Linked DNA regions of Homo sapiens: regions 1, 3 and 4 are each linked to region 2. The links come from fine-mapping of genetic effects on gene expression. A gene starts in region 2. Each other region holds a variant in brackets. All regions are shown on one strand. Distances are between the middles of the regions.

Region 1 (8,102 bases), 38 kb before region 2:
TCTTAGTGATTCACATCCACGGGACAAAAACTCAAGAAGAAATAAGAGCTGACGCCACACAAGTCTTGGCTGCTTTTGTTACTATACATTTTCTCTGAGACTCCAGCAGAGTTGGGGCTGGAACTTGGCACTGGGGACTCATGTTTGGAATCGTAGGGGAACATCTGGCTGTTAATCACTTGCACAGTTGAGAACATTTCCTATACATCGGCTTTTAATTCTAGCTCTTATTTCATTTTGTAATCTTATTTTCTTTCGTCTGCATGTTCACAATACCAAGCATTAAATGTATTTTAATAACTAAACTTTTCTGAAAGAAGGTTAGCTAAAGTTAAATGAAAACTTGGTTTCTTTGAAAATCAGGCAATAGAGACAGGCTCCAGATGAGGAATCCTCCATTTTCTGTCCGAAGCTGACATTCCTCTGGCAGTCCAGTTCACCTTGGATTACAGCCACCTTCATGTTTCCACGGTTGGTACTAAATCTGGAAACTCTGGTGACCTGGGCTGCCCTCTCAGAAACTCCAGACTCCCATGGCAATGACAGCCGGGACACTTTTCTTCCCTCCAGCCAGGGTTTCTCTAAAGGAGCTTTGTTTTGTCTAAAGTGTGGCAAGACATAGTGCACAACACAGGGACAAAGGCAGGTTTCCTGCAGCTCGCTACCTAAGTGTTTCTGTAGGGGAAGGAGCCAATTAAGAAAAAGTGTTGGTACAGATTCATGTTTCTGATTTAAAAAAACAACAACACAGGATTGAATTAAGTAGAGTAATAGCACTAGAAGAATTTTTCTGTTGTGAAATTAGAAGTGGAGTTGGTTTTTTTCTTTTTTCTTCTTCTTTTTTTTTAATATGAAAAGTACTTAGCTGGGAGTGGTGGCAAGCGCCCTTGGGTCCAGCTACTCAGGAGGCCAAGGTGGGAGGATCACTTGAGCCCAGGAGTTTTAGACTAGCCTGGACAACTAAGTGAGACTCCATCTCTACAAAAAATTAAAAAATTAGCCAGGTGTGGAGGGGCATGCCTGTGGTCTCAGCTATTCAGGAGGCTGAGGCAGGAGAATCACTTGAGACCAGGAAGTTGAGGCTGCAATGAGCCGTGATCATGCCACTGCACTCCAGCCTGGGTGACAGAGTGAGACCCTGTCTTTAAAAAAAAGAAAAAGAAAAGCACGCTGCTTGTAAAAAGCGTACAGTAGGTCAGGCGTGGTGGCTCATGCCTGTAATCCTAGCACTTTGAGAGGCTGAGGTGGGTAGATCACCTGAGGTCAGGGGTTTGAGACCAGCCTGGCCAACATGGCGAAACCCCACCTCTACTAAAAATACAAAAATTAGCCGGGCGTGGTAGCGCATGCCTGTAACCCCAGCTACTGGGGAGGCTGAGGCAGGAGAATCGCTTGAACCTAGGAGGCGGAGGTTGCAGTGAGCCGAGATGGCGCCACTGCACTCCAGCCTGGGCAGCAGAGTGAGACTCCATCTCAAAAAAAAAAAAAAAAAAAAAAGCATACAGTAAATAAAAAAGCACAAAACAGTTTTCACTTATTTTACAATTAAAAAGTCAGAAGACTTCTGAAGTTACTTATCTTTTAATACATGTATTTAACACCATACTTCATATTATTAAATAGGTTTTACTTAAAAATATAATTATTGTATTTGTACCTGTCAGATATAAATACTTATTCAGGAGTTCACAGGTACGAAAAGATACACATAAATTTTAGGAACTTTTGAGTTATTTCTGTCATTTTTGCTTTTTTCTCTTTCTTTTCCTAAATTTTATGTATAAGATTACCCCTAAAAAAAAAAAAACAGCCAGTATTCAGTGAATTCACCAGTAATTTGAAATGCACCATATTGTAAATGATCCACTGACAGGGAAGCCAGCGTGTTGGAGCCATGCCAGCCACCTCAGACACCGTGGCTCTAAGATGCGGAAGAGTCACTGCATCTTCTTGAATGTTACAGATTTGGTTTGCCTGAATGTGACTTGACTTCTGTTTTGAAAAAACATACGAATAGAGTTCTATTTTCCTTATGTGATGCTTTCTTCTAACACACTTTAACACAGAAGCCTAACCTAGCTACAAAGAGCCTATCCACAGACATAGGCAACAGCTCCAAAGGGTATTTCATTGTGTCACCTGCTTCTAGATCATCTGTTAGTTAACTGACTTTGTGCAAGGTCTCACCATGTATAGCACTGCCTTGCTTGAGCACGGAAGTTTCTGTCAACAGCAAGCTTTATGTGCTCTATCATTTTTATTAAAGTATTTCAGTCAATAGTGACCCATTGTAGAATGGATGCAGGATTCACATGTGCAAGTGCTTTGTGACCTGGCACCATTTGGTTTTGGCCAAGCAGCAGAGCAGACCTCAGGACCTAACGAGGATGGTTGTGATTAGGTCAAATAGAAAACTAGCAGGCCATTGCTGACAATTTTTACTATATAATTAGAGGACTTCCTAAAATGCTTTAAAAAAAAATGTGTATGGATGGAAAATACAAAGGAATTTTTCAAATACTCAATTTTTATTGGTAGTAGTTATCAAGAACAAAGTCCTCGGACTTCTGATGGGAAATCTGAACTGCTGTTTCTCTTTTAGCGTACAAGAAGAAATAGATCCCTCTCATTAGCACTTTAATATCAGTGTCACGTGTCTGGAAGGAAATTGTATTCATTTAGGTAAGCAACACACTACATAAATATCATAGCTGTTAGACCCAGGGGACTCTCAGGTGCCAGAATTGGGGACTCCTTTAATTGGAAGGGAGCTAAAGGGTCTACCTCCTACCTAGAAGTCCTTTCTATGTGGATATGAATTAAATTCTCTTGTCTGTTTTGCTCTGATGGGGTCTGTGTGGGCTAGCTGGCTCTGGTGTGTGCCTGACGACAGACTGAACTCCTTAACCATTTCAGACAGCTTGAAGATGTATGATCATTATTTGAAAAGGGAGAGAGGGAGGACTCTTTGTTTTCTCCACCAGTTTGGCTCCTGAGGTTTCTTCAGCGTTAGGTTTCTGTAGGGCCCAGCTTTCTCCAGTGTTTGGCTACTGCAACTCTGTGTTCTGCCAGTCTCTTAACTCAGACAGAAACAATGCAAACCAGCAGACAGAGCATCACCTTGAAAGTACTAAAACAGCTGTCAATCTAGAAATCTCTGCCCCGCAAAAACTGTCATAAATACTGCAAGACCCATGTTCAGATTTCCCCCCTTTTACAAATAATGTTTTGTTTTATTTCCCAGCTACTACAAGTGATCCAAATGTTCTTTATAGCAGACTTTTTCCTGCAGTCTAGGATCCAGTCAGAGATCTTGCATTAAATTATATCTCTGTAATCTTTAATTTCACGCTATCTGCAATGTTTTGTGTTTTTCATGACATTGATGTTTTTGATGAGGTCAGGCCATTTATTCTGCAGAATATCTGTCAATTTGGATTTTTTCTAATTGTTCTTTCATGATTAGAATCAGGCAAACATTTTTTGACAAGAATACATCAGAGACGACTCCGTGGTGCATCAGACTGGGGGCATGTGATGTCTGTGTGTCCCATTATTGGCGATGTTCAATTCTGTCACTTCTGTTGAGGCTGCATTTGCCAGATTTCAGATTAAGGTACCTTTTTCCCTTTGTAAATTAGGATATCACCTTTGTGGGGTGCCGTTTTGAGACTGCAAGGATATCATCTTCCCGAGTAGGCCTTCATCCATGGCCTCAGCATCCATGATGGTTCCTGTCCGGATGCTCACTTTTGAAGAAACATTTCAAATAATAGTGATTCCTTTCCAATTCAAAAGTAATCATTGCTTTATAGTCTTCATAAATATTTTCTGTGGTTATTTAGTTGATGAAAGCTGTTGATGTCCATTTGGATTTTTTTCCCTCCAACACAAACAGCTGCAGGAATTGGTGCCACATAGAGGCTCAGCTTGCCTGTCTCCATGGAAGCTGTGGCCACAGCAGTGGCTTTGGAAGCCTAGTAAGGAATGACATCACTGCCAGGTGCAGTGGCTCACACCTGTAATCCCAGCACTTTGGGAGGCTGAGGTGGGTGGATCACTTGAGGTCAGGAGTTAAAGACCAGCCTGATCAACATGGTGAAACCCCATCTCTACTAAAAATACAAAAATTAGCTGGGTGTGGTGGTGCGTGCCTGTAGACCCAACTACTTGGGAGGCCGAGGCAGGAGAATCACTGGAA[C/A]CCATGAGGTAGAGCCTACAGTGAGCTGAGATCATGCCACTGCACTCCAGCCTGGGTGACAGATTCTGTCTCAAAAATAAATAAAGAATGACATCACTGAATACACTGAATGTGCTATTGATAACCAGTGTGCCAGACTCCAGACAACATGTGCCAGGCATCACCCATGTCTTTGATTTTGTAATAAATAAAAAATGGGGCCAGGTGTGGTGGCTCATGCCTGTAATCCCAGTACTTTGGGAGGCCCAGGCTGATGGATCACCTGAGGTCAGGAGTTCGAGACCAGCCTGGCCAACATGATGAAACCCCGTCTCTACTAAAACTACAAAAATTAGCCGGGCATGGTGGCGGGTGCCTGTATTCCCAGCTACTGGGGAGGCTGAGGCAGGAGAATCACATGAACCCGGGAGGCGGAGGTTGCAGGGAGCTGAGATCGTGCCACTGCACTCCAGCCTGGGCGACAAGAGCGAGACTCCATCTCAAAAACAAACAAAAAAGGCAAAATCCTTGGAGAACTCTTACTGTCTCTGTTTCCAGAATCCTAGAATTAAAACTTTCATTTATCTTCACAATTTTCCCATAGCTTTTTCATGTCTGTAAGGATGATACCCTGAAATCTTCTTCTTGAGAAGATAAAGAAGGGTCCCCTCTGTTACCCCTACCAAACGGATGCTCCTCACGGGCTTGAGGTGGCAGCTCATCTCAGAGCATGGGATGATTTTTAACCAGGTGAGTGGAAAGGGGCAGTAATAAACATTTTTAAAGGTTGGGGACACATGAAGTCCTCAGGGTGTAAAGCTGGAACCAGCCTCCTGTACTGCTCAGCTTTCAGGCCTTTGGCCCCTAGTCCCTTGGGGGTGGCCCCTCCCTTCTCTGTGCCATAACAGAGTACCCGTCACCCCCTGCCTGGACCACTCCTGCAGCAGAAGAGGAGCTCACGACCTCCTCCGGCAGCACCTCTCCTTCCTCCCTGCAGAGCCCGGCTCTCGTGCTGAGCAAGCAGCGTTCCCAGCTCCCAGACAGGCCCCCCAGAAGTCGGCCTTTCTGTTCAAAAGCTTCCAGCTGAGCATCTGCCCATTCTCCTGATCCGTCCACCAGGATCACATTTCAACAGTGCACGTGGGAGCATTTGTCTTGATGGCCTCTGAGATCATCCTGGCCCCGGAGTCCCCAATGTGGTTTCCCTGGAGACTAGAAGAGTAGGGTTAAGGCAGGGCTCAAAGCCTGCAGGTTCTCTTTAGTAGAGCAGGCCATACAATAGAAAATGCAGGACCCCATGCAAAGCCTTTGTGCTTCTAGGATCCCCTCGCTACATGGACAAGGCTCAGGGTACCTCCCCTTAGACCAGGTTTCCCTATAGGCCTGCTGAAGCGTCTGGGGGTCAGCTGGCTCTCAGAACTGGGCAAAAGGCAGTGCGCCACCTGGAAGCAGTTCTAAGGGTGAGCAGGAAGGGCAGGTGCACTCACTTGATATGCTGGAGCCTGTGGTTTCCAGACAGTGCTGTGGCAATGCATATCGCCCCGTCCATCCCCAGAGAATTCTCTTGAAGACTAAGTGGAAAAGAGATGGAGACACACGGTGAGCCATCAGGGCAGAAGGAAAACACCCGGGGAAGCAACAGTGCATTGTCTGGGGGCAGTAACCCAGGCAGATGTGTCCACAGGTGCCATGGCAACTCCAGGTGGGAGTTGACCCTGGAGACAGGTGTCTACGAGTGGCCAGATTGTCCCACGCAAGTGCGCTGGAGGATGTAAGGCCATAAATGCAAGATGTGAGTGACTTCTGACTGAAGCTAAGCACACTCAACAAACCCAGCTGCAGTGGAATGTGGACTATAATAAGTCTGATTGTTTATATTCAGAAGGAAATAGCTACAGAAGAAATCAGGAGCATTTTATTCCATCAGGGAGGACCCAGCAGAGAACTCTGCTGCTCCAGGATGCAGGTAGGTCCCTCCAGCCACTTACTTGAGTCTCCGGAGACTTGAGTTTACCTTCAGAGCATTTGCCAGGGCTTTGGCTCCAGCCACCCCAATGGCATTTCCTCTTAAGCTGTTGGGAAAGACAGGAAGCCTAAGGCATGGGTACAGGCTGAGAGGTGATACTGACCCCTCTGCGGGTGGGCTTGGGGCTGCTTGGTAGAGGAAACAAGGACTTCAGCAGTCACAGGAGGCCAGGGCTGTGCCTTCCTCACTCCAGGGCAACAGGGCAGAGCTGGCTCTGGGAAGCAGGGCACACAGGGGCATGGCTGGCCTAGCCAGGAGGGTTGTTGGAGCCTTCCTCCTCTTCCATTTCAAACAGAAAAGCGGGGCTGAGACAGGAGAGGCAGCCCTCCATCTGGGCAGGTCCCCAGTGCTCCCAGCAAGGGCAGGAATTCTGAGGACATGCCTGAGCCTCAGAGCTGTAACCTCACCCCAGGACTTTGGATCTGCCCAGAGAACAAGATCAGCCCCCCTGGGACCCATAAACCAGGCCTCTAGACGTGTTCAGCCTGGCAAGGCCAACCCGGAGAGGAGGGCAAATGATAGCGACTCCCAGGGAAAGGCATGAAGTGGGGCTGGGAAACTGGTATACTTGCACTGAAATGAAGATCACCAGGATGATTTGTGAGTTGTCTGTAAACTTTGTCCCCATATCTATTCATTGAGAATTCATTGATTTCTTTGGGCTAAAGACCATAGATGGAGACTGGAATACTTACTCGAGAATCTCCAAGGTTCTGTTCACAGCCAAGGCTTCCCCTAGCACCTGGGCGCCTGAAGCACCAATTGAGGCCACCTGGAGACTGGGGCGGAGAGGGTGCCGTCAGTGTGAGCCGGCTGGGCCCACCTCCCTCCGCATACTCCGTTCCCTTTCACCACCCCTTGACTCAGGATGGAAAGTGGAGAAACAGCACTGAGAATGGTTGGCCAGCGCTGTGTCTAGGCACTCCATCTCCTACCTACACTGTCTGTTGCCTAAGACAGAGATCTGGATGCTAAGGAGATGAGAAATAGAGGCTGTCCCTGGAAGGGCTCGGGGAGAATGCTCCCTGTACCTCCTCATTACTACTCTCTAGGTGTTTGAGCCCCCAACTGCTAATATCATATTTCCTATATTAGGAAAATCAAACACACCTTCCTTGACTTGTAAACAAAAATAACGTCCAGGCCAGGTGTGGTGGCTCACACCTGTAATCCCAGCACTTTGGGAGGCTGAGGTGGGCAGATCACCTGAAGTCAGGAGTTTGAGACCAGCCTGGCCAATATGGTGAAACCCCGTCTCTACTAAAAATACAAAAATTAGGCTGGGTGTGGTGGTGCACGCCTGTTATCCCAACTACTGTATGGGAGGCTGAGGCTTGAGAATCACTTGAACCCAGGAGGTGGAGGTTACAGTTAGCTGAGATTATGTCACTGCACTCCAGCCTGGGTGGCAGAGCAAGACTCTTGTCTCGAGGAAAAAAAAAAAAAAAAAGACCTCTAACGTGAAAGGATGGCGAAGGGACCGGTTTCCTGACTGCTGCGCACATCTAGGACTTACTAGAGAGCAGTGAGGGCTGTGTTGACCTTCAGTGCACGGGCCACCGCACACGCTCCGTCATCCCCGATGGCGTTCTCCTGTAAACTAGACACAGAGTATGACCCCTTTGGGTGCACGGGGCACAGGGAGCATTCTAGCAAGGCCCTGCCGCACTTGGACCTGCCAGGTTTAACCGACTACACACACCATAGACACTCCCAGGGTTTCCTGGGGATAACTGCCCTTCCTCCACAGGCCCTGCAGCCCGCCGCCTCATACTAAGCACACAGAGGCGTCTGGGGCCTGCATGAGTCTGAACCGCCAGAGGCAAGCAGGAAATGGGACATATAGAGTGACTGTCAGCAGGGGCTTGGGACCCAAAAGGGGATGCTTTTCACAGC
Region 2 (8,102 bases):
ACCCACCATCAATACCATTTGTATTTTTGTAGAGACAGGGTTTCACCATGTTGGCCAGGCTGGTCTTGAACTCCTGACCTCCAAAAGTGCTGGGATTACAGGTGTGAACCACTGCGCCCGGCCTTGTGGAGCACGGCTTTTAAATAACCAACGCTCGGCCTGACCACCCAGAGATTTGATTGGTCTGGCAAGGGCCCCCACGTGGATCTAGTTTAAGCTCCTCCGGTGGTTCTAACCAGAGTTGAGAACCACGGGACCCGAGCGGGGCTGGGAGAGGAATGAGGGAGGGACAGTGCTGGCAGGAGTGAGGGGTTGGGGCGAGGCAGGACTCACAAGCGCCTGGGAAGGCGGGGACGGGGTGTAGGGGGCTGGCAAGCACCCCTGCCTCTGTGGCCTCATTAGTCTCTCAGTATTGGGAGTCAGCACTCCCTCCTGATCAGACACCCATCTTTGTGGCCCCATGACCTTGGGTCCAGGGTTGCCAGATTCAGCAAATTAAAATACAAGACAAACCTGGGCACAGTGGCTCATGCCTGTAATCCTAGCACTTTGGGAGGCTGAGGTGGGCAGATCACCTTGAGGTCAGGAGTTCAAGACCAGCCTGACCAACATGGCGAAACCCCATCTCTACGAAAAATACAAACATTAGCTGGGCGTGGTGGTGGATGTCTGTAGTCCCAGCTACTCTGGAGGCTGAGGCAGGAGAATCGCCTGAACTCAGGAGGTGGAGGCTGCAGTGAGCCAAGATCACGCCACTGCACTCCAGCCTGGGTGACAGAGCGAGACTGTCTCAAAAAATAATGATAAAATATGAGATATCCACAGATAATTAAATTTCAGATAAACGACATATAATTTTTAGTATAAGCATAGCTTATGTCATACTGGAGACATACCAAAGAAATGGATTATTTGAAATTCACATTTGACCAAGTGTCCTGTATCTGATCTGGCATCCCTGCTCAGGCCCCATTCAGACGAAACGTGGCTTTCATCCTGGACACTGTCCCTAAGAAGGACAGAGGAGGGGGTGCAGGTGAACCAACCCCCCTGCCATTGCCAGCACCTCCCAGGACCAGCCCCAAAGGCTGATGGGGGCTGGTTACCTGGCTGCCACCGCTGCCAGGCCCTGCACGCAGCCCTAACATCCCCCTGGCAGGCTGGAGCCTTCCACAGACCTCTCAGCCGAGTGAGGTCGCGAGGCCGCAGACGCCACTATGGATGGTCAGGCGGCCCCTGTGAGCGCAGCTGAAAGACAGAGAGACTGAGGACAGGTGGGACTCGGGTTGCTTTGGGGGATCTGAAGGCCAGAGGTCGCTCCACAGCTGGTTTGAGCTGCTGCGAGCAGGGCGAGGCCAGAGGGACGAGTAGGTGCCACTGCTGCCTCCTCCCCGGGAGCCTCCCAGGTAGCACCAGGTTTCACCCCTAGAGCTTTGTCTGTGAGCGAAGGTGAACCTGAGGCCTTCCTGGTGTGGTGTGGGCTCAAGCCCAGTTCCTCAGGCTCAGCAAGTGGCCTGCTGCCTCATTCCTGAGAAGCCTCAGTCCCGACGGACTAGCCGCCTCTGCCCATCACCCGCCCACCTGATCTGTGCCTCAGTCCTTGCCGGGACCTGCTGGGTCCTTCCCTGCCACTTGGCGCCCGGGTGGGACTTCCCAGTGCTGGCTGCCTACCTGGGCTGCCAGTATCTCCCACCACGGCTGCTTGGATGCTCCTCTCTTCCCACATCCTGCCCCTGCCCCCTCCCAGGGCCTTGGAATTCAGGACTCGGTTCTCTCGAGGTGGCCCCAGCATCATCACTTGAGCTCAAAAGCCTTCCCGAAGGAAGAAGGAAGTGGCACCTGCACCTCAGGGCCCTACCCTGCTCACTGCATGGACCCCTGGAGTCCAAGGGGTGGAGAGGCCCAGCCCTGGGGAGCCCAGCACCCTGGGACAGAAGAAGAGGGGTGCAGCCTGCAGCCTGTGATGGCCAACAGTGAGCCCCAGGCTCAGGGTCACCTCCAGGGAGGGGTCCAGAAAAACACCAGGGCCTCTGGAGCCTGGCCATAGGGGAAGACCCTGCAGCCAACACCCAGGCTGGCCCAGGGCAGTGGCACTTCTTCCGAGAAGGCCTCTGCGGTTGCCGTCTCTCTCGACCCTTGTCTCACCCAAGGCTGTGGGCAGGAGAGGCCCTGGGGCTGCCCACTCGCCTGGGGGCGGCGCCTGCACCCTCCCTGCCCCTCATGACCTCGCCCCTCCTGTGCTGTCACCTCCATCTACAGGTGGGGTGCTGAGGCCCAGAGAAGTAGCCTCCCATGGGGGGTCCCAGTGCCAGGAAGGGTGCCCAGGTCTGCCGATTCCCCAGGCCGTGGCTCAGCATCACCACTGCCTGCCCGCAGCACCTTCAAGATGCTTCCTGCTTCTCCTGGGCCATCACTGGTACCTGGGGGAGCTGGGTTTTGTCCCTGGGACCTGTCCTGGGCCATTCTTAGTTACCTGTTTTTTCTTTTCTTTTTTGTTTTGTTTTGTTTTGTTTTGGAGACAGTCTCGCTTTGTCACCCAGGATTGAGTGCAGTGGCTCGATCTCGGCTCACTGCAACCTACGCCTCCCGGGTTCAAGCGGTTCTCCTGCCTCAGCCTCCCGACTAGCTGGGTGGGATTACAGGCGTCTGCCAACATGCCTGGCTAATTTATTTTTTATTTTTAGTAGAGATGGGGTTTCACCATGTTGGCCAGGCTAGTCTCAAAGTCCTGACCTCAAGTGATCCGCCCACCTTGGCCTCCCAAAGTGTTGGGATTACAGGCGTGAGCCACCGTGCCTGGCCACATCTCTTTTTTCTACAGCATGAGCCAGTCCTGCCCCAGGAGACAGCTTCTTGGAGTCTCGTGGAGTCTCCCCAGTCCCCCTCCCCAGAGTAGCTCAGGCCTTAAGGCCACTGTCCTTCCTGCCAGCATCCCTTCTCCCTCCCCTGCCCTGCACTGAGGTCACCTGGACCCAACTTACCTCCCGGGCCTCGATGCTGCTCCAGGGACAGCAAGACTGGGGGGCCTGGGGGCGTCCATCTCCATGCTCCTGGGCTCAGCCCTGCTCCAGCTGCGTGGTGGTAGATGCCCTGGGAATCCCTGTGCCAGCCTGAGTTCTCAGGACCAGGGATCAGGGCACTTACCACGCCAACCAACCAACCGTGTGGGGGCCGAGAGCAGTGCAGCCCCGACCTTCTGCAGCCCCACCGAGCCCACCGGCTGTCCCTGTGGCTCCGGGTCCTCACCTCTTCCTGTGCTGGGCTCCACCTCATTCTTCCTTCCTGTCTGATTTCAACAGCCAACAGCCTCGCAGACACATCGAGGAGCCGGGGCACCCTGGCTTGGTCACCGCCCCCGTGCAAGTTAAGTGCGGGGGCGATGCTGGGGGTCTTGACTCTGGGATTAAGTGTCCCTGCAGGTGGCATGCTCAGGATAAAGTGGCTGGTGCCAAGGCTGTTGACACATCACCTCCATCCCGCCACAAAGGAAGCTGCCCCGCCATCAACAAATGCTTGTTTTCAGGCGGGTGGTCAGGAAATCAAGTGAGCAGCCTGAGGTCACGCAACTAGAGGGTGACCCCAGCAGGACTGGACTGTGCCCTGCCACCTCCAGGCCACCCCTGTGGCTCTCCTTATTTATTTATTTAATTTATTTATTTGAGACAGAGTCTCGCTCTGTTGCCCAGGCTGGAGTGCAATGGCACGATCTCGGCTCACTGCAACCTCCCCCTCCCAGGTTCAAGAGATTCTCCTGCCTCAGCCTCCTGAGTAGCTGGGATTACGGGCATGCGCCACCATGCCCCGCTAATTTTTGTATTTTTAGCAGAGGAGGGGCTTTGCCATGTTGGCCAGGCTGGTCTTGAACGCCTGACCTCAGGTGATCCACCCACCTTGGCTTCCCAAAGGGGTGGGATTACAGGCGTGAGCCACTGCGCCCAGCCTATTTATTTTTTGAGACAGGATCTTGCTCTGTCACCCAGACTGGAGTGCAGTGGTGTGATCTCGGCTCACTGTAGCCTCTACCTCCTGGGGCTCAAGTGATCCTCCTGCCTTGGCCTCCCAAAACACGGAGATAACAGGTGTGAGCCACTGTGCTCCCTCTTTTAACACCTCTTGCTTTCTTTTCTCTCTGTCACCCAGTAGGCACCTCTGACTCAGCTGTGCCCCATAACATCTTCCTGTGAGCAAAGGGCTCCCCAGAGGCAGGTCACCTGTACCCTAAGAGGAAACAGCAGAATGTTGCCGTCCGCGGCAGGAGATCGCACTCGGCCCCTGGAAGTGGACCTCAGTGGGTGGCCTGCCCTGACAGGGAAGGGCGTGAGGGGGAAGGACATGGCCCAGAGCAAGCCACATGAGAAAAATTACAATAAAGTATGGGACATCCGCTGGGGACAGGGAGCAAGCAACATGGGGCCACTGAGGGAAGGAGGTGACAAGGTGGGAGCCAAGGGACAGGGGTCCTGGGGTCTGAATTTTCCTCAGCAAGCAAGTGGGAGCCAGCAATGGTTGTAGAGCAGGAGAGTAGTGGGTCTGGACTCATAGAGCAGCTTGTGGCTCAGGGGAGGTAGGAGGGTTAGCTGGTTCCCCAGAGCCTGTGTGGGTGATGGGGGGGAGGGAACTGAGGCAGCAGACCAGAAGTGCTCCTGCACATTCCCCTGCCTGCCTACCTTCTTTTGTCCCTCCTTCCTCTCCCTCCCTCCCAACAATGCTTTCTGAGCACCCAGGAACCTGCTGGGTGCTGGGAGGACACGATGGACCCTCGAGAAGGCTGCCCGAGGCTCCAGGCAGGCAGAGTGCAGACCCAGCAGCTGCAGCCTCGGCTGTGGGGAGCAACAAAGGCGCCTGAAACCAGGCCGCCCACAGGATGTTGGAAACCACAGGGCCCGGTGGGTATCCGTCACATAAAAGGGGCCAGAGGCTCACACTGCCTCCCTTTGTGGCTCAGGGGGATGGATGCGGAGCCTGAGAGGACACAGCCTCATCCACGGGATCTTGGGGAGCAGCCCAACCCAGCCCAGCCCAGCCCCGCCCCGCCCCGCCCCGCCCGTTCCTCCCCCTCGCAGGAATGTCCATCAGTCCACACAGGGCTGGTCCCATTCCCCACTCTGCCCGCTCTGCTGAGAACCAGGTGGGCCGTCCTCCTGGCTCCTGGTGGAGGTGGGGGTGCTGGGCTGGGGGCTCCCTAACTGTTCTCACTCTGGGGCTTTCTGTCCACCCAGAGCTGGGGTCAGCCAGACAGGAAGCGACCTCAGCCCTTCCTAACTCAGCAACAGCGCAAGGCCCCTGCCTGCAGGCTCTTTCTTTGTAAGTGCCCTTGCCTGGGCCCAGGCTGGGGTGTGGCTCCCCTGTGACTGCCTTGAGGGGCTGTGCCCAAGCCATGCCAGGTTGGGGCCACCAAAAGTGGGACAGGCCTGGAGGCCTGTTCATATTACAGTGAGGCATAGACAGACCCGTTTTCTGATTTAGTTGTTACCAGTGAAAGTTCTGCTGCCAGTCTTTTATTCTCCCCCTTTAGAAATGTTTTTAATATTGTTTTCAAAATAGAGACTTGGCCTTACTATGTTGCCCAGGCTGGTCTCAAACTCCTGGGCTCAAGTGATCCTCCTGCCTTGGCCTCCCAAAGCACTGGGATTACATGTGGGAGCCACCGCACCCGGCATGCCAGCTTCCTTCTCAGTCACTCCTGGAAGGTAACTCTCTCTCGCCTTGTCCATGAAGAGGCCCCATTGCCTGCCAGTCTTGCTGCAGGCGCTGTGAGAAGGCATTTTCCATCTGTCAACTGGACCTAGTTTTATGTTGCCCGGGTCAGCGTCATCCCTGTAGCAGGGGCCAGGTCTACTCCTGGATGCCACCACGCCTCTGTGGGTTCCTGCAGTGACTCCTTCAACCCTTTCCCTCTGGAGGAATCAGCTGCTTCACAGCTTGTTTCAGGACAAGGAAATGCTGCTTTGTACAGGTTCAGGGCCAGCATCCAGTCCCCTGGCTGGGTGGCAGTGCATAAACCAAGCCTCTGCCCAGCGCTGTCAGCCCAGGGAGCGTCCAGCAGCCCCAACTGAATCCAAGGTCACCACAAGGCTCGAATCCAGTCCCCAGGCCATGCCTCCCCTGGCCTTGGGCTCACACTGCACTCAAGGCTCCTAACCCAGCTTGTTAACTACTTGGAACCCCTCCCCCAACCCATCTTTACCAGCCTTGAAGTTCTGAACTTTCAAGTCATGGCACATAACACATACTTCCCCAAACCACAAACCCTGCGAGGCCGGACAGGGGCCCCGAGTCCCCCACCTGCACCACTCCCTCTCGCTTCCCTAACACCAGGGAGGGGGATCAGCCCATCAAGGAAGCAGTGCGTGATGCCTTCCGAAACAGGCCAGAGGCCAGCCTCAGATTGATCACAGCTGATCTCAGCCTCTCAAATTGTTCGCCCCGGGCACCGTAAGCTGGGAGGCCTGGGCCTCTCCGCTGGTTCACGTGCCAGGACATAGTATGTGCGCCAGAAATCACATTTCACCCCCTAAATGCTGCTGAGCCCTAAGATGCAGCTCACAAACCCCTCTTCTGGGAGGCTGTCCCTGACACGGCCCTTCAAGCCACTGGAGCCCGACTCCCCACCAGGCTGGGATAGGCCAGCGTCTGTCTCCTCCACTGGACCGGACGCAATGGTAAAGGCATGTGCTGTCTTGGTGAGTTGTGGGGTGGGGCCTGAATCTGCTTTTGTAGCAACTCCCGGCTGAGGCAGCAGCTGGGGGTGCTTGGGCCCCACTTTGAGGTGCGGGGGCTGGAGCTTGGCACCCAGCCAGGGCTCTGTTGGATACGGGTGTGTGGATTAATGGATGAACATCTGCATCTCTGGTCTGGGAACTGAAATGAGGAGACAGCAGGCCCAGGTTACTCCAAAGTAAAGGGCAGGTGCAAGGTGGGGACTTCTGCAGGCGTGGGGCACGGGCTGAGGGGCCACGGTGCCTCCAGGTCCCCCGTTTCGCTCGTGGTCTCCCTGGAGTGTGGCAGCCAGATTTTAATAAAGCCTTTTTGGTTTATTGCACATCATATAAAACTGACTGCACTGTATTTGAAACAGACGAGGACATTCACAAGGATGGAGAAACCAAGGTTTCCTTCTTTCCTGGCCCTCATCTTCCTCCACACTGCTCCTGAGGCTGGAGGCAGCTTTAACCCAAAGAATGGAATCCGCTAGTGAACATGTTTGTTTTGTGGTGGCATCAGAGTTGTTCTGGGCCCTTGTGCACTGTCCAGTTTGGAGACTGCTGGTAACAATGACAAGTGTCCGGGTAGCACGGCTGGGTCAGGAGAACTGCATCTGGGCTGTGGCAGTGCAGGGAGCCTCAGGACACCTGGTCTCAGGCTGGCGGTGGCTGGGGTTGGCCTGAGTGCTGAGGAGGACGGGCCCGGGCTGCCGGGGCAGGCTGGACCTGACGTCCATCTCAGGACAGACATGTAGGGCAGCTGTGCCCAGGACTGGTGGGCTCAGAGGGTGGCAAATGTGGCAGAATAGGCCATGCCCTGGCCAGCTGGTGATGGCCCACTGCCCCCTGGGACAGCTGAGGGCCCTCTTGGGTTAAGGGAGACACACTGGGCCGGGCGCAGTGGCTGGCGCCTGTGATCCCAGCACTTTGGGAGGCCGCAGCAGGCGGATTGCCTGAGCTCTGGAGTTTGTGACCAGCCTGAGCAACATGGTGAAACCCCGTTTCTACTAAAATATAAAAAATCAGCTGGGCGTGGCAGCGTGTGCCTGTAGTCCCAGCTATCTGGGAGGCTGAGGCAGGAGAATTGCTTGAACCCGGGAGGCGGAGGTTGCAGTGAGCCGAGATTGTGCCACTGCACTCCAGCCTAGGTGACACAGCACGACTGTCTCAAAAAGAAAAAAAAAAAGAAAACCAAAAAGGGAGACACACTGTGAGCACGGACAGAGGAAGGGGCTGGAGTCTGTAAATCCAGTGGGTGACATGCTCCAAATGCCACCCTAGAAAGCAGAGCCCAGAGGAGGAAGCCCTGGATTGGGCTGTGGTCATCATCACAGCGCAGAGCTGATGTGGTCCCCAGGCCCAGAAATGCCTGTGGAGGCCTGACCCACGCTGGGTGTC
Region 3 (8,102 bases), 73 kb before region 2:
CTTCGGCCATTTCTAGCGAGGATGGAAAGTTCTCTATCTGCCACTGGCCGCGTGTGGCTCAGAACGCTTGAAATGTGGCTAGTGCAGATGAATAACTGAATTTTTAAGTGTAATTTATTTCTGTTTGTGTAGCTGCATGCCGCTCTTCGCTACCGTATTGGAAAATGCATGGAGAGTTTAGAGACTATTTTTTGAGTTGGGTTAGCTTAGCGCTTAGAAAACCGAACAGCAGGCCGGGCGCGGTGGCTCACGCCCGTAAGCCCAACACTTTGGGAGGCCGAGGCGGGCGAATCACCTGAGGTCGGGAGTTCGAGACCAGCCTGACCAACATGGAGAAACCCCGTCTCTACTAAAATTACAAAATTAGCCGGGGGTGGTGGCGGGCGCCTGTAATCCCAGCTACTCGGGAGTCTGAAGCAGGAGAATCGCTTTGGAGGTTGCGGTGAGCCGAGATCGGGCCATTGCACTCCAGCCTAGGCAACAAGAGCGAAACAACATCTCAAAAAACAAAAAACAAACCAAAAAAAAAACAACCAGCAACGAAACCGAGGAGAGGAGGCTGGGTGATAATCATTGCGGCTAACATTTTTTGAGTTTTAACGATCTGCCAGGGCCCGCTCTGTGTTATGCGCATTTCATTTTAATCATCTGAACAACTCTGTGCCCCCTGTATTTGGTAGTGAGGAAACGGGCACAGAGAGGTCAGGTAACTTGGGCAGGTGATACAGGCGGTAGGAGGTGGCACTGGGGCTTGAATTCAGGTTGCCTGAACTCCAGACATCCTGAACTCCATCTGCATCCTTTCTGCAGGGCTGGTAAGGAGAAGGGAGCTCGAATTCCTTTGCTAAGAGGGTGGGGAAGTGGAAGAACGAGGCTAAGAGTGTTGGTTACGGCTGGGCGCAGTGGGTCACGCCTGTAATCCCAGCCCTTTGGAAGACCGAGGCAGGCGGATCACTTAATTTCAGGAGTTCTAGACTAGCCTAGCTAACATGGCGAAACCCTGCCGCTGCTAAAAATTCAAAAAATTAGCCGGGCATGGTGGCGCGCGTCTGTAGTCCCAGGTACTTGGGAAGCTGAGGCAGGAGAATTGCTTGATTCCGGGAGGCAGAGGTTGCAGTGAGCCAAGATGGCACCACTGCGCTCCACCCTGGCCGACAGAGTGAGACTGTCTTTAAAAAAAAAAAAAAAAAAGGAAAGGTAGATGATGATTGCCAATTTGGTGTGATCCGAGGGGTCTCTTAAAGCCAGTTTTCTCGTCCAATTGTTGGTGCCTGAAATTTTAGCATTAGAGATTACTCCTTTTGGTTATGAATTGCTCTTTTCTACAATGTAAAAATATCTAGGAAGACGCATTACCTTTTATCCATGCAGCCACTGAGCACCAGAGTGTGAATCCTGCCCTCTGGGGTTTGAAGGTTTTTGGTGGCCACACATCATGCAGGATGACTGTCTCCTCCCACATAGTTTTTAGAGAGGCCAGCACCCTGCCGGGGGACGTAGAATGGGGTTTTGTTGGGGAGCGCACACACGGAGATTTCGGAATATTTTGATCTTAAATTAATGCTCTGCAGTTGTGCAGTGTATGGTAAGGATCTTACTCAAATTAGTGTCTATTTTGACAATAACACCGCAGCATTAACAGAACTTGACTAGTACCTAGTGGTCAGGAGTATTTAGGCAGTGCCTTACTGTGTGAAGGAAAGGCTGCTGCTTTCTTTTCTGTTCTTTTTTTGAGACAGTCTTGCTCTGTCTCCCAGGCTGGAGTGCAGTGGTGTGATCTTAGCTCACTGCAACCTCTGCCTCCCAGCAATTCTCCTGCCCCAGCCTCCCCAGTAACTGGAATTATAGGCGCCCGCCACCACACTCACCTAACTTTTGTATTTTTATTTTTATTTTATTCTTTTCTTTTTTTGAGATGGAGTCTCGCTCTGTCACCCAGGCTGGAGTGCAGTGACGCGATCTCGGCTCACTGCAAGCTCCGCCTCCTGGGTTCACGCCATTCTCCTGCCTCAGCCTCCTAGTAGCTGGGACTACAGGTGCCCGCCACCACACCTGGCTAATTTTTTTGTATTTTTAGTAGAGACGGGGTTTCACCGTGTTAGCCAGGATGGTCTCAATCTCCTGACCTTGTGATCCACTCGCCTCGGCCTCCCAGAGTGCTGGGATTACAGGCGTGAGCCACTGTGCCCGGCAACTTTTGTATTTTTAGTAGAGGTGGGGTTTCACCATTTTGGTCAGGCTGGTCTTGAACTCCTGACCTCAGGTGATCTACCCTCCTCGGCTCCCAAAGTGCTGAGATTACAGGCGTGAACCACCCGCGCCTGGCCTTTTTTGTTTTTGTTTTTGAGACAGGGTCTCACTCTGTCACCCAGGCTGGAGTGCAGTCACATGATCTGAGCTTACTGCAACCTCCTGGGCCCAGGTGATCGTCCCACCTCAGCCTGCTGAATAGCTGAGACCACAGGCATGCACCACCACACCCAGTTAATTTTTTTTTTAATCTCTGTATTCACATTTCCCAGAAAACAGTTACAGAGTCCCTTTGTGACTTTGCTGTTTCCTGTGCTCACACTTTCTGTTTCATTGTCTTGCGAAGTCTGACCTGACTTGCAGTACCTAGGTAGGTTATTTGTGAACATTGATGGACCATTTTGAACATGGATCTTCAAGAAGAGTGCAGACAGACCTTAAATAACCAGGAAGCACACTGAATGTAGATCTTGGTACATATGGGAACTCAACAAATGTTTGTGGTGTTCATTTCCAAGTCCTGCTCTCTTGAAAGCACTAAGGCTTTTCCTGAGGTGACCCCAACCTATGGATCAACAAGTATTAGTATTACTGTTTCTTAATCTGTTTTATAGTAAATCTAAATATGGTTGTATAGTTCAACCACTCTATTTAAGATTTCTCTAAATACAAGGCGACTGATCTTTAAAACTTGTGTTATTTGGGTCCTATGTGGTCACTAAAATTAAAAAAAAAGACAACTCAGAAACATGAATGTCATCCTACGGATTCCCCTCAGAAATAACCACTGTTAACATTTTAAAACACTTTTTAATCAGCTGAATTTGAGTCAAACCACTGTTGACATTTAAAAATACTTTTTCTTCATGACATTTTATAAGGACGGGTGTTTCTTCCTTTTAGCAGTAAAAAGAAATGAGATACTAAAGAGAGAAATGAAATTCACAGCTAATCCCTCAATTCCATTTTCATGTATAGCCATCTACTTCTCCCATTGAACTTAAATATATGCTTTTTAGGTAGCATTTTTGGTATTTTAAATTTTATCTCCTTTTTGCTTTCCCTTGTAGAAAGTTGACAAATAGTCCCTAAAGCTGTCAATAGGTTGGAAATAAGAAGGAAAAGTAAAGACAATATCTAAGTTAATAAGTAGTTGCTGTGTGATGGGGAACTGAATGAATTGTATTTTTCCTTGGACAGATTTCACAGAGATGATGAGAGCCCTGGGATACCCTCGACATATTTCTATGGAAAATTTCCGTACACCCAATTTTGGACTTGTATCTGAAGTGCTTCTCTGGCTTGTGAAAAGGTTCGAACGGCACTTTATTGACATCTAAGAGTGAATACTGGGTTTTATTTATTAGTCATCTAGAAAACAGGACACAGCTGTGATGCTGCAAAAGGGAAAGTTTTTGGAATTTGACAGACCCAGCTGTATTCTGTTACAAAGGAGTTGTGGCTGGGCACAGTGGCTCACTGCTCTCATCCCAGCACTTCATAATCTCAGTCATTCAAGACTAGCCTCATCAACATAGCAAGACCCTGTCTCCATACACAAAAGAACAATTAGCTGAGCCTGGGTGGTACACACTCATAGTTCCAGCGACTCAGGAGGCTGAGGCAGGAGGATCACTTGATCCCAGGAGTTTGAGGCTGCAGTGCCACTGATCATGCTATTGCACACCAGCCCGGGCAGATTGAGACTGTGTCTCAAAAAACAAAATCAGGCCGGGCGCAGTGGCTCACGCCTGTAATCCCAGCACTTTGGGAGGCCGAGGCGGGTGGATCACGAGGTCAGGAGATCAAGACCATCCTGGCTAACACGGTGAAACCCCATCTCTATTAAAAACACAAAAAATTAGCCAGGCGTGGTGGCGGGCGCCTGTGGTCCCAGCTACTCAGGAGGCTGAGGCAGGAGAATGGAGTGAACCCGGGAGGCGGAGCATGCAGTGAGCCGAAGTGTGCAGTGAGCCGAGATAGCGCCACTGCAGTTCAGCCTGGGTGAAAGAGCGAGACTCCGTCTCAAAAAAAAAAAAAAAAAAAAAAAATCAGTGGAGTTTAAAGAATGCTGTGGGAGTGGGAAATATACCAGGAAGTCGTGAAAGGAGACGACTATTCCTCAGTAGGATGCTGGGCCAGGCTGCTCTTCAGCCCCTCATGGCAGAGTGACAGGGGCCTTTTTGCACATTCTGATCAGTACACTGGATTAGAAATAATGGAGATTTCTTTTTCTGTGAAAAAATTGAATATGTTATATGATTCAGGGTTGGCAGCTTTTTCTGTTAAGGACCAGATAATATTTTACCTTTTGCTAAATATAAAATTCATAAGATCTCTATTGCGTCTCTTCTTTTTGTTAAAATGTAAAAACAGTTCTTAGCTTGCAGGCTGTACAGGTCGGAGGCTGCAGTCTGCTGACCCCTGGTTTCAATACCTTGAAGAAAATAACTTCACCAACTCTGCTGCTGCTTAGAGCTGACTAATCGGCCCTAGCACTGATCTCTGAGTCAAGGGCTGTCAGCCAGGGTAGCAGTTCTGATTAGCTTCATGACATGGTGAGATCTGAGAGAGATTTAATTTTATAAGCTGAGATCCACATTTAGTTTTTGAAATCTGTT[T/G]TTCTTAGGTGGGGATTTGCTCCCTTGGTATTTGGTTTTGCTTTTGAAGTTTGCCTTGATCTCACTCTCCCACTTGGGGACTTGGAGAGCGTTGTGTTCCAGACCCGCTGTCCTCTCAGTTGCCCACATTCTCTTTAGTAGACTTTCTCCTTGGTTAACCCGTGCTCTCTCCTCTTACCTCTCTTGATAGATATGAGCCCCAGACTGACATCCCGCCTGACGTGGATACTGAACAGGACCGAGTTTTCTTCATTAAGGCAATTGCCCAGTTCATGGTTAGTGGACACTTATTTTGTGGAGTTGTAAAATTAAATAAACTAGAAAGGATGACTCCTTGTTAGGGCGACTTTCAAACTGTGTAATTGAGTTTTTCTTTCTTTTTTTTTGAGATGGAGTCTCATTCTCTCGCCCAGGCCGGAGTGCAGTGGCACAATCTTGGCTCACTGCAACCTCCGTCTCCTCGGGGGTTCTCCTGTCTCAGCCTCCCGAGTAGCTAGGATTAGAGGCACACGCCACCACACCTGGCTAATTTTTGCATTTTTAGTAGAGACTGGGTTTCACCATGTTGGCTAGGCTGGTCTCAAACTCCCGACCTCAAGTAATCCACCCTCCTTGGCCTCCCAAAGTGCTGGAATTACAGATGTGAGCCACCACGCGCCTGGCCTGAGTTTGCTTTCTAAAACCATTCCATTGCTGGGTTTCTGTGGCACCATTTCACCAGCGAAGTTCTTTTTGTTTGTCTTTTAATTCATTATTTGTTAAGAATTTTGTTTATGCCAGGTGTGGTGGCTCACGCCTGTAATCCCAGCACTTTGGAAGGCCGAGGTGGGCGGATCACGAGGTCAGGAGATTGAGACTATCCTGGCTAGCAGGGTGAAACCCCGTCTCCAGTAAAAATACAAAAAATTAGTTGGATGTGGTGGCGGGCACCTGTAGTCCCAGCTACTCGGGAGGCTGAGGCAGGAGAATGGTGTGAACCTGGGAGGCAGAGCTTGCAGTGAGCCGAGATCACGCCACTGCACTCCAGCCTGGGCAACAGAGCAAGACTCTGTCTTAAAAAAAAAAAAAAAGAATTTTATTTATTTATTTTTGAATAGATAACATATTTCATGGCTCACAAATTGAAAGTAGGCTGGGCGTGGTTGTTCATGCCTGTAATCCTAGCACTTTGGCAGGCCAAGGTGGGAGGATAGCTTGAGTCCAGGAGTTTGAGAACAGCCTGGGTGATGTAGTGAGATCCTGTCTCTACAAAAAATAAATTTAAAAAAAATTAGATGGGCCTGGTGACACGTGCCTGTAGTCTCAGGTGCTTGGGAGGCTGAGGTGGGAGGATTGCTTGAGCCCGGGAGGTTGAGGCTGCAGTGAGCCGGGATCATGTCATTGCACTCCAGCCCAGGTGACAGAGTGAGACCCTATCTCAAAAAAAAAAAAAAAATTAAAAACATTATGAAACAAAATGGAGTAAAATGACTTTTTACCCTATCTGCCCTGGGCCAAGTTCCATTCCAAATAACCACTATTTTAAATCTCTTCCAGAGTTTGTGTGTGTGTGTGTGTGTGTGTGTGTGTGTGTGTGTGCAAATAAAAATATATATTTTTCCTTTGTTTTACACAAATGGTACTGTATTCTACTTGATGTACTTACTGTACACTACAAGATGTTTAGCATCTTGCTTTACTTAATGGTATATTTTAGAGAACTTTCCAAATACATATAGAATTTCCTCATTCTGTTTACGCCTGAGTGGTATTGCTTGCATGGATTTGCCATAATTTATGTAATTTATATAGGTAGGCTTTTAGGTTGTCTGAAGCTTTGCTCTTTGGAACAGTGCTGTAACAAATAACCTGTACATCTCATTTTGTTTGTGTTTGAGTGTGTCCCTAGAATAAGTTCTTAGATTTGGGATTGCTGGGTCAAAAGATATGTGCATTTGTAATTTTGATGTCTTTTACCAAATTGCTCTCCATCAAGATTGTCCCAGTTTATACAACCACTCACAATGTTTGAGTCACTTGAATGCTTTGCTTTTATTAGGTTATATCCCAGTTGTCAGCAGAGGCATTTTCAACTCACCTACATGGGATTTAGTTTAGACATTACATGGAAAGGGCCTTCAACTTTTTTTTTTTTTGGTCTAAAAATAGGCCACCAAGGCACATATAAAACTCAACACTAAGAAGCTTTATCAAGCAGATGGGTATGCGGTAAAAGAGCTGCTGAAGATCACATCTGTCCTTTATAATGCTATGAAGACCAAGGGGATGGAGGGCTCTGAAATAGTAGAGGAAGATGTCAACAAGTTCAAGTTTGATCTTGGCTCAAAGGTAAGGACAACAAAAGCCTTGTAGTGGGCGATGGAGCGTTGATTTCTTGAGCTCTGAAGTGGAAGGAGTCTGCTACAGCTCCGCTGCTTTTCTTCCTCCTCAGCTGAGGGCAGTTTGTCAGTTTTGTGCTCATCAGCATTTGGATAAAGTCAAAGTCACAATCCACTAATTCAACTATTTATTAAAAGCTTAGTATTTGTCAGGTAGCATTCAAGCGCTGAGGATACAGTTGTGAACAAAAAGGACAAAAATCGTGTGTTTATTCTCTTCAGTTAGGGGAGTCAGACTGTGAACAATAAGAGGTGTGGAAGGCCAGATGCAGTGCAGGCTGTGGAGAATAATAAGCTGGGATGGGGATGGATGCTGCCCAGAGTGATCTTAAATCGGGTGATCAGGAAGGCCTCATGGATTGGATGGTGTTTCCAGCAGAGATCCAAGGGAGGGAAAGAGTGAGTTGTGCGGGTGGCGGGTGGCGTCAGGGTGTCTCAGGATGATAATTTGTTTTGGGCTGGGTGCAGTGACTCACTCCTGTAAGCCAAACACTTTGGGAGGCCGAGGTGGGAGGATCCTTTGATGCCAAGAGTTCCAGACCAACCTGGGCAACATAGTGAGACGCCATTTTTACCAAAAAAAAGAAAAAAATTAGCTAGGCGTGGTGGTACACACCTGTGGTCCCAGCTGCCCAGGAGGCTGAGGTGGGAAGATCTCTTGAGCCCAGGCAGTCAAGCCATGTTCATGGCACTGCGCTCCCGCCTAGGCAACAGAACGAGACCTTGTCTGGGGGGAAGAAAAAAAATGTGTTTTGTGTGTTTGAGGAAAAGCAAGGAGGCCGTGTGATGAGGGTTGGGATTGACAGACCCTCTGGCGCCTGGGAAGCCCCTGGAAAGCCTTTGTCTTTGCCTC
Region 4 (8,102 bases), 44 kb after region 2:
AACAAGCACATGAAAAGATGATCAGCATCATGAATCGTTAGAGAAGTGCAAATTGAAACTGCAGTGAGATACCACTTCATGGCCAGTAGGACAGCCATTTCCTAAAAAAAAAAAAAAAAAAGTATTGGTGAGGATGTAAGGAAGTTAGAACTCTGATACATTGCTGGAGGGAATGTAAAATGGTACAGCTGCTGTGGGAAACAGTTTGAGGTTCCTGAACAAGTTAAAGATAAAATCATCATATGATTCAGCAATTCCGCTTCTAAGGATATGTCCCAAAAAATTGAAAAAGTGTTTAAGGGCCAGGCGCGGTGGCTCACGCCCGTAATCCCAGCACTTTGGGAGGCCAAGGCGGGCGGATTACCTCTGGTCAGGAGTTTGAGACCAGCTTGGCCAATATGGTGAAACCCCGTCTCTACTAAAACTATAAAAATTAGCCGGGCTTGGTGGTGGGTGCCTGAATCCCAACTACTCGGGAGGCTGAGGCAGGAGAATCACTTGAACCTGGGAGGCAGAGTTTATGGTGAGCTGAGATGGTGCCATTGCACTCCAGCCTGGGCAACAAGAATGAAACTCCGTCAAAAAGAAGAAATGCTCAAACAAAAACGTGTACACCTCATATTCAGTCTAAATGCCCTTCAGTGCATGAATGAACAAAATGTAGTATAGAATGGAATACATGTTACACTGAACATTTGCTTATTTCCGTTTTGTAATTTTTTTTTAGTGACAAGGTCTCATTTCTGTTGCCCAGGCTCGAGTACAGTGGCACAATCATGACTCATGGCAGCCTCAGACTGCCAGGGATCAAGTGATCTTTCTGATCTTCCCAACTTCCTTATCTTCCTGACTCAGCCTACCTGTAGCTAGAGCTAGAAGGGCCCCTGGGTAATTTTTTTTTTTTTGAGACGGGGTTACACTCTATCATCCAGAATGGAGTGCAGTGGGGCAATCTCAGCTCACTGCAACCTCCACATCCCAGGCTCAAGTGATCCTCCTGCCTCAGCCTCCCTAGTAGCTGGGACTGCAGGCATGTAAAACCACACCTGGCTAATTTTTTGTATTTTTAGTAGAGAAAGGGTTTTGCCATGTTGCCCAGGCTGATCTCAAACTCCTGCGCTCAAGTGATCTGCCCACCTTGGCCTCCCAAAGTGCTGGGATTACAGGCATGAGCCACAATGCCTGGCCTGTGGGTAATTTTCTTTCTTTCTTTTATTTTTTATTTTTTTTTGGAGACAGAGTCTCGCTCTGTCGCCCAGGCCGAAGTGCAGTGGTGTGATCTCAGCTTACTGCAAGCTCTGCCTCCCAGTTGCATGCCATTCTCCTGCCTCAGCCTCCCGAGTAGCTGGGGCTACAGGCTCCCGCCACCACGCCTAGCTCCATTTTTGTATTTTTAGTAGAGACAGGGTTTCACCGTGTTAGCCAGGATGGTCTCTATCTGCGGACCTTGTGATCTGCCCACCTCGGCCTCCCAAAGTGCTGGGATTACAGGCATGAGCCACTGTGCCTGGCCGCCTGTAGGTAATTAAAAAAAAAATTTTTTTTGTAGACACAGGTCTTGCTATGTTGCCCAGGATGATCTCAAATTCCTGGGCTCAAGTGGTTCTCCTGCCTTGGCCTCCCAAAGTGCTGGGATTATAGGTGTGAGCCACCACGCCTGGCCCTCAGTATTTTTAAAAATTCTAATTTCCATTTACAGCTCTACTAAATATTTCATCGAGTCAGCAGATTGGTTATAAATATAACGAAAATTCATATGTATGGCTTTTCTTTTTTTTTTTTTTTTGAGACAGAGTCTTGCTCTGTCACCTAGGCTGGAGTGCAGTGGCATAATCTCGCCTCACTGCAACCCCCGCCTCCGGGGTTCAAGTGATTCTCTTGCCTCAGCCTCCTGAGTAGCTGGGACTACGGGCATGCGCCATCACGCCTGGCCAATTTTTGTATTTTTAGTAGAGATGAGGTTTCACCATGTTGGCCAGGCTGGTGTTGAACTCCTGACCTCAAGTGATCCACCCGCATCGGCTTCCCAAAGCGCTGGGATTACAGGCATGAGCCACCTCGCCAGGCCTGTGTATGGCTTTTCTTTTAAAAAGTTTACATGTCATATTTACCACATTACATTCATTGAGTCACATCATTCATCACATCATTTAGTCACGTGACTGGGTAACAAGCATTTCAGAGATCAAAAGGCTTCGTATAATTAGTAAAGAAACCTTTTATTTATTTATTTAGAGACAGAGTACTCAGTGTGTCACCCAGGCTGGAGTGCAGCGTGGCCTGATCATAGCTCACTGTAACTTCGAGGCTGCAGTGAGCTGTGATCATGCCACTCTACTTTAGCCTGGGTGACAGAGTGAGACCCTGTCTCAAAAAAAAAAAAAAAGTAATTATACTATGCATATTGCATCATGAGCATTTCTCTAAGTCAGTAGATAGGAAGCCATATTATATTCCATATTTAATCAAACATTCCCCTGTTGATAAAGATATATTTATAGTTTTTATCATTATAGATTATGCAATAAATGTCTTTGTACTTATAACCTGTATGTGTGTGTTTTTATTTCTTTTGGAAGGAGTCCTAAATCTAGGATTTCTAGGCTAAAGGGTATGTGTGTTTTGTTTGGTTTGCCTGATTTTTTTTTTTAAAAAGTTTATTATTTATTTTGAGACAGAGTCTTACTCTGTCACCCAGGCTGGAGTGCAGTGGCGCAATGCCGGCTCACTGCAACCTCCGCTCCCCAGGTTCAAGCGATTCTCCTGCCTCAGCCTCCGGAGTAGCTGGGATTACAGGCGCCTGCACCACACCTGGTTAATTTTTGTATTTTTAGTAGAGACGGGGTTTCACCATATTGACCAGGCTGATCTTGAACTCCTGACCTCGTGATCCACCCGCCTCAGCCTCCCAAAGTGCTGGGATTACAGGTGTGAGCCACTGTGCCCGGCCTATTTTATATTTTTTTTAGAGACAGGGTTTTGCTGTCATCCATGCTAGAATGCAGTGGCACGAGCATAGACTCGAACTCTTGGGCTCAGACAATCCTCCTGCCTCAGTATCCCGAGTAGCCAAGAGTACAAGCGTGTGCCACCACACCCAACTGACTTTTAAAAATTTTTGTAGATATGGGGTCTTGCTATCTTGCCCAGGCTGATCTTAAACTCTTAGCCTCTGGTGATCCTCCTGCCTCCAAAAGTGCTGGGTTTACAGGTATGAGCCATTGCTCTTGCCTGGTTTACCTGTTTTAGAAAAGAATACCTGTACATTGTTAATTTTTTTTGTCCAGGAGCTTCAGAAGGGTACAAAAATTCCCTCCTACTTCTGGCCCCCTGACCTCCAAACTCCCTCATCAGAGGCTTCTTGAAATATTCCAGATAATTCTGTGCACATACAAATATAAATATATATCCCTGCTTTTCCCCAATGTAAATAAACGGTAGCACATTTTACCCATTGTTCTGAACCTCGTTTTTGCAACTTAATGAACTGTCTTGGAGATTTTTCCTTATTACATATAAATCTATCATTTTGTTTAGCAGTTGCATTATATGTCATCATTTGGATACATTCATACTTCATTGTATCACCTATCAAGGGACATTAGATGGCTTTCATTTCCTTCTACAATGGCTAATGGTGCATTGAACATACTTGTATATACTTTTATGCAGATTTGCACATATATTTGTAGGATATTCCTGTAACATAAGTGGAATTGCTGGGTCAAAGGATATGGGTAAATCAGAGTGTTTTGGGGTGTTACCCAGTTACCTTCTAAAGAAGCCAAATTGGCCAGGCGTGGTGGCTCATGCCTGTAATGCCAGTACTTTGGGAGACCGAGGCAGGTGGATCACTTGAGGTCAGGAGTTTAAGAACAGCGTGGCCAACATGTTGAAACCCCGTCTTTACTAAAAATATAACATTAGCTGGGCATGGTGGCGCACCCCTGTAATTCCAGCTACTCCAGAGACTGAGGCAGGAGAATCGCTTGAACCCGGAAGGTGGAGGTTGCAGTGAGCCAAGATCACACCACTGTACTCCAGCCTAGGTGACAGAGCAAGACT[GA/G]AAAAAAAAAAAAAAAAAACGGAGGCTGAATCAGTTTCCATTCCGTTAACAATGAATGTCTTTTTACTCATATCCACACACTCACAGAATATATCATGAAACATTTTGTCTTTTACTATTTCAGCGGTTAAAAATTGGTGTCTTGTAGCTTTACTTTACATTTCTTTCATTGAGGAAACGAGTATTTTCTTCACGTGATTAAAAGCTACTTGTTTACCTATGACCTTATGTTTGTGGGCTTTGCATTCTTTTAGATTGTGTGATTAATCTTTTTCCTATTGGTTTGTAAGATTATGTGATTAATCTTTTTCCTATTGATTTGTAAGAACTCTATATTGTGGAAATGGATATAGTGTTACAATGTTACAGATAGTTTTTACCAGTTTTTATCATTTGACTTAAAAAAATTTTTTTTCTTTTTTGAGGTGGAGTCTCACCATGTTGCCCAGGCTAGACTTGAACTCCTGGGCTCAAGTGATCCCCCTACTTCAGCCTCCCACGTAGCTGGGACTACACCTATGTGCTACTGTACCTGGCTTGGCTTTGACTTTTAATAAAATTTTTTCCATGTAGAGCTTTACAGTTTTTTGTAGTAAAATAACTTTTCTTGTATGCACATACCTTCTTCCAGTGTTTGACTCACCTTTACGTTCTCTTAATGATGCCTTGTAATGAACAAAGGTTCTTCAAAGCTGGAGGCATCACATTACCTGACTTGAAATTATACTACAAGGCCTCTTTTGGGAGAGTGAGGGGAAAGGATTTCTTGAGAGCTTGAGACCAGCCTCGGCAACATAGTAAGACTCCATCTCTAATGTACCTGCCCCCCACGTCCCCCCAAAAAAATTAGCTGGGCATGGTGGTGCACACCTGTGGTCCTAGCTACTCATGCAGTAACTAAAACAGCATGGTACTTGTACATATTTTTGTACCATAGATCAGTGGGACAGAATAGAGAACCCAGAAGTAATGCCACTTGCCTGCAACCAACTGATCTTCAATAAAGTTGACAAATATGCAGTGGGGGAAGGACACGCTATTCAATAAATAGCGCTGGGAAAATTGGCTAACCATATATAGAAAAATGAAACCGTACCTCTATCTCTCACCGCATACAAAAATTAACTCAAAGACTTAAACATAAGACCTGAAACTCTAAAGATCTTAGAAGAAACCCTAGGAAAAACTCTTCTGGATATTAGCCTAGGCAAAGAATATATGACTAAGACCTCAAAAGCAAATGCAACAAGAAGAAAAATAGGCAAATGGGACTTAATTAAATGAAAACACTTCTACACAGCAAAAGAAATAACAGAGTAAATAGACAACCTATAGAATGGGAGAAAATATTTGCAAATTAAGCCTCTGGCAAAGGACTAATACGTAGTATCTCCAAGGATCTCAACAAGAAAAAAAAACCCATTAGTAAGTGAGCAAAGGCTGGGCGTGGTGGCTAACACCTGTAATCCCAGGACTTTGGGATGCTGAGGCAGGAGGATCACTTGAGGCCAGGAATTAGAGAGAAAGTAGGCAAAGGACAAGAACACATACTTCTCAAGTGAAGACATACAAGCGGCAAAGAAACATGAAAAAGTGCTCACATCAGTAATCATCAGAGAAATGCAAATCAAAACCACAGTGAGATATCATCTTACACTGGTCAGAATGGCTATTATTAAAAAGTCAAAAAACAACAGATGTTGGCATGGATGCACAGAAAAGGAAATGCTTATATGCTGTTAATGGGACTGTAAATTACTATAACCTCTATATAGAAAACAGTATGGAGGCCAGGTGCGGTGGCTCACTACCTGTAATCCCAGCACTTTGGGAGGCTAAGGCAGGCGGATCACTTGAGTGCAAGACCAGCCTGGCCAACATGGTGAAACCCCGTCTCTACTAAAAATACAAAAATCAGCTGGGCGCGGTAGTGCACGCCTGTAATCCCAGGAAGCTGAGGCAGGAGAATCGCTTGAACCCGGGAGGCAGAGGTTTCAGTGACCTTAGACTGTGCCACTGCATTCCAGCCTGGGCGACAGAGTGAGACTCTGTCTCAAAAAAAAAAAAAAAAGGTTAGTGGCTTTTGTGTCCTTGGTTAGCAAGGTCTTCTCTACTTTGAGATTATAAAGTAATTTTCTGCATGTTTTCTTCTAGAGTTTTTATTTTTACATTAAAATTGTTATTGGCCAGCTGCGTAAGGCACCTGGTGGTGCTCTAGGCACTGGGTTAGCGTCCCTTATGCCGAGCTCTAAACCTTCAGAATGCCCTTGCCGCCCCTGGCTGAGTTCACAGTGGCTGAAGCTGTTCCCATAAGACCCTGAATCTAGCAGCCACTGTGTACTATACCTGGAGCAGTCCAACTGGGTGGACTGTGCTCAGCATCCGAACATCTAGACAGGCAAAGCCATTCCCAGTGGTGGCCCAAACCAGCAAACATTGTGTAACAATTTTTTTGCAATCAATTTTTCTTTTCTTGTTTTTTGAGATGGAGTCTTACTTTGTCGTCACCCAGGCTGGAGTGCAGTAGTGGGAACTTGGGTCACTGCATCCTCTGCCTCCCAGGCTCAAACAGTCCTCCCACCTCAGCCTGTATTCTATTTCTGTAGCTGAGAATATAGGTTTCTTCCAGCACACCTGGCTAATTTTTTATTTTATTTTTTATTTTTAGTAGAGATAGGGTTTTGCCATGTTGCCCAGGCTCGTCTCGAACTGGGCTCAAGTGATTTGCTTGCCCCAGCCTCTCACAGTCTGAGATTACAGGTGTGAGCCATCATGCCCAGCCTGCAGTTTTTCTTATTAAAACTTAATGGGGGCCGGGGGCAGTGGCTCACTCCTGTAATCCCAGCACTTTGGGAGGCCTAGGCGGGCGGATCACCTGAGGTTGGGAGTTCAAGACCAGCCTGGCCAACATGGTGAAACCCCGTCTCTACTAAAATACAAAAGTTAGCCAGGTGTGGTGGTGCATGCCTGTAATCCCAGCTACTTGGGAGGCTGAGGCAGGAGAATTGCTTGAGCCCTGGAGGCAGGGGTTACAGTGAGCCGAGATCGTACCACTGCATTCCAGCCTGGGCAACAGAGTGAGACTCTGTCTCCAAAACAAAAAACAATAAAACAAACTAATGGGGCTAGGCATGATGTTATATTCTTGTAGTCTCTGAAACTTGGGAGACTGAGAAGGGAGAATTGCCTGAGCCCATGGTTCAAGGCCAGCCTGGGCTGTGTAGTGAGACCCATCGCTGCAAAAAAAAAATTGTTTAAATAAAATTAGCCAGCATGGTAGCACATGCCTCTACTCCCAGCTATTCAGTAGGCTGAAATGGGATCGCTTGAGCCCAGGAGGTCGAGGCTGCAGTGAATCATAATCGCCTTTCTGCACTCCAGCCTGGGCAACAGAGCAAGACCCTGTGTCAAAAAATAAATAAATAAATGAAACGGCCAATATAGAATAAAGGTGCTAAAAAAGGCATAGGAGGGAATCTTCATGACTTTGGGGTAGGCAAAAAATTCTTAAACAGGGACACAAACCACTAACCATAAAGAAGTGACAAATTATGTGACATTAAAATTAAGAACCTTTATAAGGCACCATTAAGAGGGTGTAAAGGGCTGTGCATGGTGGCTCATGCCTGTAATCCCAACACTTCAGGAGGCCGAGGCAGAAGGATCGCTTTAGCCCAGGAGTTTGAGATCAGACTGAGCAAAATAGTGGGACCCTGTCTGAACAAACAATTTAAAAATTAGCCGGGTGTCAGGGCATGCGCCTGTAGTCCCAGCTACTCTGGAAGCTGAGGTGGGAAGATCACTTGAGCCTGAGAAGCCAAGGCTATAGTGAGCCGTGATTCTGCCACTGTACTCCAGCCTGGGCAGCAGAGCAAGACTCTATCTCAAAAAGGGTGTAAAGATACCACAGACTAGAAGATGTGTGTGATGTGCACGGGACTAGTATCATATGCACAATGACAAAGGATTAATATCTAAAGAAATCCTAAAAAAAAAAAAATAGAAAAACAGGCAAGAGACTTGAGTGGCCAACAGG

Which allele goes with the higher level. Positions count from the first base shown, and alleles are read on the strand shown. Sizes are in standard deviations (SD) of each study's normalised expression. Not every link is listed here.
In carriers of allele G in region 4, the expression in lymphoblastoid cells of the gene that starts at base 3,236 in region 2 tends to be higher than with GA alone (large effect, 0.86 SD a copy in GENCORD).

Evidence for each region.
Region 1: its variant is fine-mapped to the expression of NLRC3 in nucleus accumbens (GTEx, PIP above 0.99). The same link has a PIP of 0.9 or more in anterior cingulate cortex, cerebral cortex, hippocampus, hypothalamus, prefrontal cortex and putamen.
Region 3: its variant is fine-mapped to the expression of NLRC3 in whole blood (TOPMed, PIP 0.92).
Region 4: its variant is fine-mapped to the expression of NLRC3 in lymphoblastoid cells (GENCORD, PIP 0.95).

The regions. Positions count from the first base shown.
Region 1 is chr16:3,536,524-3,544,625 of GRCh38, forward strand. CLUAP1 (clusterin associated protein 1) reads left to right here. Exons shown (of 12, transcript NM_015041.3): 12 at 1-2,525. It overlaps NLRC3 (NLR family CARD domain containing 3), which reads right to left. Exons shown (of 20, transcript NM_178844.4): 16 at 7,723-7,806; 17 at 6,902-6,985; 18 at 6,169-6,252; 19 at 5,668-5,751; 20 at 2,510-5,392. The coding sequence ends at 5,302. It overlaps LOC101929732 (a long non-coding RNA gene), which reads left to right and starts at 5,386. Exons shown (of 4, transcript XR_007064953.1): 1 at 5,386-5,779; 2 at 5,865-8,102. RefSeq lists an enhancer at 7,900-8,102. The variant C/A (reference allele first, on the strand shown) is at 4,202.
Region 2 is chr16:3,574,168-3,582,269 of GRCh38, forward strand. NLRC3 (NLR family CARD domain containing 3) reads right to left here and starts at 3,236. Exons shown (of 20, transcript NM_178844.4): 1 at 2,982-3,236. SLX4 (SLX4 structure-specific endonuclease subunit) reads right to left here. Exons shown (of 15, transcript NM_032444.4): 15 at 7,014-8,102. It overlaps LOC105371060 (a long non-coding RNA gene), which reads left to right and starts at 3,336. Exons shown (of 2, transcript XR_001752061.3): 1 at 3,336-4,886; 2 at 5,220-7,054. RefSeq lists enhancers at 4,320-4,369, 4,400-4,579, 6,481-7,276 and a silencer at 5,020-5,119.
Region 3 is chr16:3,501,270-3,509,371 of GRCh38, forward strand. CLUAP1 (clusterin associated protein 1) reads left to right here. Exons shown (of 12, transcript NM_015041.3): 2 at 3,451-3,562; 3 at 5,062-5,146; 4 at 7,020-7,199. Among named protein-coding and RNA genes, the nearest start is that of CLUAP1, 4.3 kb to the left of the region's middle. RefSeq lists enhancers at 477-994, 995-1,511. The variant T/G (reference allele first, on the strand shown) is at 4,872.
Region 4 is chr16:3,618,148-3,626,249 of GRCh38, forward strand. It overlaps a transcript of DNASE1 not described here. Among named protein-coding and RNA genes, the nearest start is that of SLX4, 11 kb to the left of the region's middle. RefSeq lists an enhancer at 7,847-7,946. The variant GA/G (reference allele first, on the strand shown) is at 4,066.